2 separate regions of the Homo sapiens genome follow, and region 2 is linked to region 1. Evidence: fine-mapped expression QTL. A gene starts in region 1. The other region holds a variant in brackets. All regions are shown on one strand. Distances are between the middles of the regions.

Evidence for each region. PIP is the estimated chance that this variant, and not a neighbour inherited with it, causes the effect. A credible set is the group of variants that fine-mapping cannot tell apart.
Region 2: its variant is the best candidate, but not a certain one, in a credible set for the expression of FOXC1 in blood mononuclear cells (TOPMed, PIP 0.80).

The regions. Positions count from the first base shown.
Region 1 is chr6:1,608,558-1,611,454 of GRCh38, forward strand. It overlaps FOXC1 (forkhead box C1), which reads left to right and starts at 1,358. Exons shown (of 1, transcript NM_001453.3): 1 at 1,358-2,897. The coding sequence starts at 1,889. RefSeq lists a silencer at 1,166-1,785 and an enhancer at 2,116-2,215.
Region 2 is chr6:1,545,410-1,548,306 of GRCh38, forward strand. The region is part of intron 2 of LOC102723944 (a long non-coding RNA gene); the gene reads right to left. Among named protein-coding and RNA genes, the nearest start is that of FOXCUT, 59 kb to the right of the region's middle. The variant T/G (reference allele first, on the strand shown) is at 1,577.

The sequences.
Region 1 (2,897 bases):
GGATTCAGCCTCCGGGAGGGTCTCTCCTCAAGTCGCTAAAATGCAGAATCGCCGTGCCGGGGGAGGGAGGCCTGGCTCTTTCCCGCTCCTTCGTTTCTTTCCCTCATTTCTCTTCTTCCTGTCCCATTCCAACCACCCAGCGACGGCGAATCTCAGGCGTGTGCACAACGAGCGGGGGCCCTTCCGTGCGTGTCCCCCCAGAATCCTTGAACCGCCCTCTAGGTGCGACCCTGGACGTTCCCCCAGACACACCCGTTGTCTCTGCGAGCCGGCAGCCCCGCGCATGTGGAGATGGAGACTGGCCTGGGGAAGCGTTAAGCTCTTAGACATATTTATTTGCTTCTTGTCATCACACCTGCTAATGTCACCGAGCCCGCAGCCTGACCCCTCATCTGAGCCGAAACGGGCCTGACGGGATCAGAGGGGGCGGCGGCGCGGCGAGCCGGTGGGACCCTCGCGGGCGGGCAGGGGAGCGCGGGGCAGCAGCCGGGCTCCGGCAGCCCTCGCCGCCCGCACCCTCAGGCCGCCAAGGGCCGGCCCCCCGGGGAGGGGGGCGAGAAGCAGGGCGGCCCGCAGCGGGGCGGGCTCATCCTTCGCGGGTGAACGGCCGTCGGAAACTCCCAGCAGGGCCCCGCACCCCTTGCCTTCATTTCGGCTGGGGAGGGGTCATGGAGGGGGGCCAGATGGGCGACGAACCTTCTTCCCCACCGCGAGCAGGGCCTGGCTGTGACCGAGCCCTCAAAATCATGTCCTTTGTAGCCGAGTTCAGGACAGGAGAACCTCCAAGTGGAGAAAAGCCGGAGACGTCAGTGACCCGAGTGAGACTGGCGTTGGAGAAGGGAGGGAAGGGGCTGCGGGAGGGGAGAGGCGGCGGGGAGGAGAGGCTGGGGCAACCCCAGCGCTGGCGTCGGCGGGGCTGGCGAAGGAATGAGAGCGAGCCAGCACGAGGCGGGGCGGAGACGCCAGGGCCACTCGGGAGCCGTGGGCGAAGGAAGGGTCTGCACGGGGTCCCGGGAGGACCCAGGAAGTCTGCGCGAACGGCGGGCGTGGGTCCGGAGGGCCCGGGGTGGGAGGTCTGCCGGGCGCCGGCGGCAGGCAGGTGGACTGCGGGGGGCGAACCGACGGCGGGCCGGGCGCCGGCGCGGGCGCAGGGCCGGGGCCCGGGCCAGGGCGGCCGGCGCGCGTGTGGTCAGCCCCGCGGTCCTCCGGCCTCCGGGAGCGGGCCGGCAGGGCTCGGCCTCCGGCTCATTCGGAGGCGGTTCTCACCTCCCATTGGCTGCCGCCGCTGGCGGGGCGGGGCTCCGCTGCCCGGAAAAAAGTGTAACTGCGTAAAAAAGTCCTCGCCTGGGTGACGGATGCTCAAAAGTTCAGAAGTTTTCCCAATGCTTCCTTAAGCGGCTGGCGCGCGAGAGACCGAGAAAAGGTGACGCGGGGCCCGGGCAGGCGGCCGGCGCGCGGCCCCCCCCCCCCCCGCCCTGGTTATTTGGCCGCCTTCGCCGGCAGCTCAGGGCAGAGTCTCCTGGAAGGCGCAGGCAGTGTGGCGAGAAGGGCGCCTGCTTGTTCTTTCTTTTTGTCTGCTTTCCCCCGTTTGCGCCTGGAAGCTGCGCCGCGAGTTCCTGCAAGGCGGTCTGCCGCGGCCGGGCCCGGCCTTCTCCCCTCGCAGCGACCCCGCCTCGCGGCCGCGCGGGCCCCGAGGTAGCCCGAGGCGCCGGAGGAGCCAGCCCCAGCGAGCGCCGGGAGAGGCGGCAGCGCAGCCGGACGCACAGCGCAGCGGGCCGGCACCAGCTCGGCCGGGCCCGGACTCGGACTCGGCGGCCGGCGCGGCGCGGCCCGGCCCGAGCGAGGGTGGGGGGCGGCGGGCGGCGCGGGGCGGCGGCGAGCGGGGGCCATGCAGGCGCGCTACTCCGTGTCCAGCCCCAACTCCCTGGGAGTGGTGCCCTACCTCGGCGGCGAGCAGAGCTACTACCGCGCGGCGGCCGCGGCGGCCGGGGGCGGCTACACCGCCATGCCGGCCCCCATGAGCGTGTACTCGCACCCTGCGCACGCCGAGCAGTACCCGGGCGGCATGGCCCGCGCCTACGGGCCCTACACGCCGCAGCCGCAGCCCAAGGACATGGTGAAGCCGCCCTATAGCTACATCGCGCTCATCACCATGGCCATCCAGAACGCCCCGGACAAGAAGATCACCCTGAACGGCATCTACCAGTTCATCATGGACCGCTTCCCCTTCTACCGGGACAACAAGCAGGGCTGGCAGAACAGCATCCGCCACAACCTCTCGCTCAACGAGTGCTTCGTCAAGGTGCCGCGCGACGACAAGAAGCCGGGCAAGGGCAGCTACTGGACGCTGGACCCGGACTCCTACAACATGTTCGAGAACGGCAGCTTCCTGCGGCGGCGGCGGCGCTTCAAGAAGAAGGACGCGGTGAAGGACAAGGAGGAGAAGGACAGGCTGCACCTCAAGGAGCCGCCCCCGCCCGGCCGCCAGCCCCCGCCCGCGCCGCCGGAGCAGGCCGACGGCAACGCGCCCGGTCCGCAGCCGCCGCCCGTGCGCATCCAGGACATCAAGACCGAGAACGGTACGTGCCCCTCGCCGCCCCAGCCCCTGTCCCCGGCCGCCGCCCTGGGCAGCGGCAGCGCCGCCGCGGTGCCCAAGATCGAGAGCCCCGACAGCAGCAGCAGCAGCCTGTCCAGCGGGAGCAGCCCCCCGGGCAGCCTGCCGTCGGCGCGGCCGCTCAGCCTGGACGGTGCGGATTCCGCGCCGCCGCCGCCCGCGCCCTCCGCCCCGCCGCCGCACCATAGCCAGGGCTTCAGCGTGGACAACATCATGACGTCGCTGCGGGGGTCGCCGCAGAGCGCGGCCGCGGAGCTCAGCTCCGGCCTTCTGGCCTCGGCGG
Region 2 (2,897 bases), 63 kb before region 1:
TTATCTCTTTTAACAGCCCCCAGATAGCTGGCTGATAGATATTATTATCATCAGTTACAGATGGCAAAACCGATACTTAGAGGATTAACAAGAGTGGATCAAATGCATTAGTCACAATAACCTGGGTTACCTATGTTGACAAACAATCCTAAAATCCCAGTGCCTCAACATACACGTGTGCTCTTGCTCACATGGTATCCAACATGAGTTGCACAAAATTCTGCTCTACAGCCCTGTTTGGGACCTAGGATGGAGGCTCTTTCATCTTACAGCCACAGCATCAAAGCACACGGCCTTCTCATCTGGGAGGCTGGCGAACACGTGTCTCCTCCGTCTCACGGTGAGAGAAAAGGAGGCGACCAGCGATCAAAGTGCTTCACCCACACAGAGCACAAGTCATCTCCACTCACTGCCTGTTGGGCAGAGTTGGCCGCGTGACTGTCCCCGAGCAGTGGCTGGGAAGTACACTTCTCTTTGTGGGCAGGGCAGGAGAGAGGCTGGCGACGTCCACCAAGCCAGGGCAGGCAGCAGCAGAGCTGGGTCCAGAGCCCAAGCATATTAGTCTGTTCTCACACTGTTATAAAGAAATACCTGAGACTAGGCAATTTATAAAGAAAAGGGATTTAATTGGCTCACAGTTCTGCAGACTGTACAGGAAGCATGGTGCCAGCATCTGCTTGGCTTCTGGAGAGTCCTCAGGAAGCCTACAGACATGGTGGAAGGCAAAGGGCAAGCAGACACCTCACATGGCCAGAGCAGGAGGAAGAAGGAGGGGGAAATGCCATACACTGTTAAACAACCAGACCTCATGAGAACTCACTCACTATACAGTACCAAATGCTAAACCATGAGAAACCAGCCCTGTGATCCAATCACCACCCACCAGGCCCCACCTCCAATATTGGGGATTACAATTGAGCATGAGATTTGGGTGGGGACATAGATCCAAACCATATCACCAAGTCCTCTGGATTTCCTTCCAATGTTCCTATTCTGTGGCCAGAGTAAATGGCTCAAGTGAAAATTCAACTAGGCTCTAATCCAAGGACCTTGGGTTGGTCACTTACCTACCTGAGACAACGTTTACTCACTTATAAATAGGAATAATAAAAGCTACCCCAAGGCCTATTGTAAGGATTACATGAGATAATGAATATTAAGCACTTACTATAGTATCTTGCACATAATCGGCCCTCATTAAATTCTTGTTGCTGTTGAGATTGTAGCTGTAAAGCCACCGTGGCCTTTGACGTCATGAACAGTGTCGGCTAGGTGATCGAAACATCTGCCTCTTCTCTGCAGATGTCAGACGTTGTCAAAGTCACCCTCCAATGACCCAACTTTACTTCTGGCACCATCCTGGGACTGACAATTTGTCACGCAGACACAAAGAAAAACCTTCTCATGGACCCTCCAAGGAGTCTAGGTTCTTATTATGAACCCTCGTTTTATCTGTTAATTCAGTACATATTTATGAAGCACCTCTTCTGCATTTATTCCCTATGCTGGGAATAAAATTTTAGAAAAAACAAACATAACTCATGGCATTTATGGTCTTTGTTTTTAATTTTTTATC[T/G]TATTTTATTTTTAATTAATTAATTTTTGTTTTTTTAGAGACCAAGTCTCACTCTGTGGCCCAGGCTAGAGTATAGTGGTGCAAGCATAGCTCAAGGTAGCCTCAACCTCCTGGACTGGGAGCGATCCTCCCGCATCAGCCTCCCAAGTAGCCAGGACTACAGGCGTGCACCACCAAGCCCGGCTCATTTTTTTTTTTTTTTTTTCGAGATGGAATTTCACTCTTGTTGCCCAGGCTGGAGTGCAATGGCGTGATCTCGGCTCACTGCAACCTCCACCTCCCAGGTTCAAGCAATTCTCCTGCCTCAGCTTCCCGAATAGCTGGGATTACAGGCGTGCACCACCACACCCAGCTAATTTTGTATTTTTAGCAGAGACGGGGTTTCACATGTTGGTCAGGTTGCTCTCGAACTCCTGATTTAAAAAATTAAAAAAAAAATTTTGGGTAGATGGGTCTTGCTTGTTGCCCAGGCTGGTCTCAAACTCCTGGGCTCAAGTAATCTGCCCACCTCAGCCTCCCAAAGTGTTGGGATTAGTGAGCCACTGTGCCTGGCCCACTTTAGAGTCTTTGAAGAAACACAAAGTTACCTTGCAGTGTCTTTGGAAATAAGTAGGCATAGAACTCACCCTTTGCCAGTGAAGTGGACTGGCAAACACTGCTGTCACATTTTGTACCCACGCAGAGCACCGCTTCAGGCACACTTGGTCCAGGCACACTTGGTCCACGTGATCTTTGTAGGTGAACCCTGCACGCTGAGTCCTGTGGTGGCCCCTGGCCCCTGCCACCCTCCCGGGATTGCACGCTTTCACAGCCACAGCAAGCTCAGCCAGCGTTCACTCTTCTTCTAGCCCATCCTACTTACCACAGTCACTTAACTCCGAAAAATCCTGGCACCTTCTCACTGCCTGCCAAGTTGTACTCCACTGGCACGTGGATGGTGTGACTGCCTTTACACGTGACTGGGAATCTAAACCCCACCCTGCTCAGCGCCATGGCGGGGTGTCTGATGCAGCAGCCGCAGCAACAGCTTCCCAAGTTGTCAGAGAAGAGCCTTAAGCTTCCTTGCTACATGGGACTCCAGGAGTCCCCTGGGAAGTTCAGGCTAGAGCCTGTTTGTTCACCTTCCCCATGATTCCATAAACCATTTAATATCCTGAAATAAATCCCTTTCTGCTCTGCTCTGTAACTGAACCCTGACCAACACCGAGACTGGAATCAGGAGAGGTCGTAGGACTGAGTCTTAGGAATCAAAGTCTCAGCTCCCTCGGCTGGGTGGTTTTCAAACTCCTGGGTCCAAATGTATACACATAATTTCAAAGAA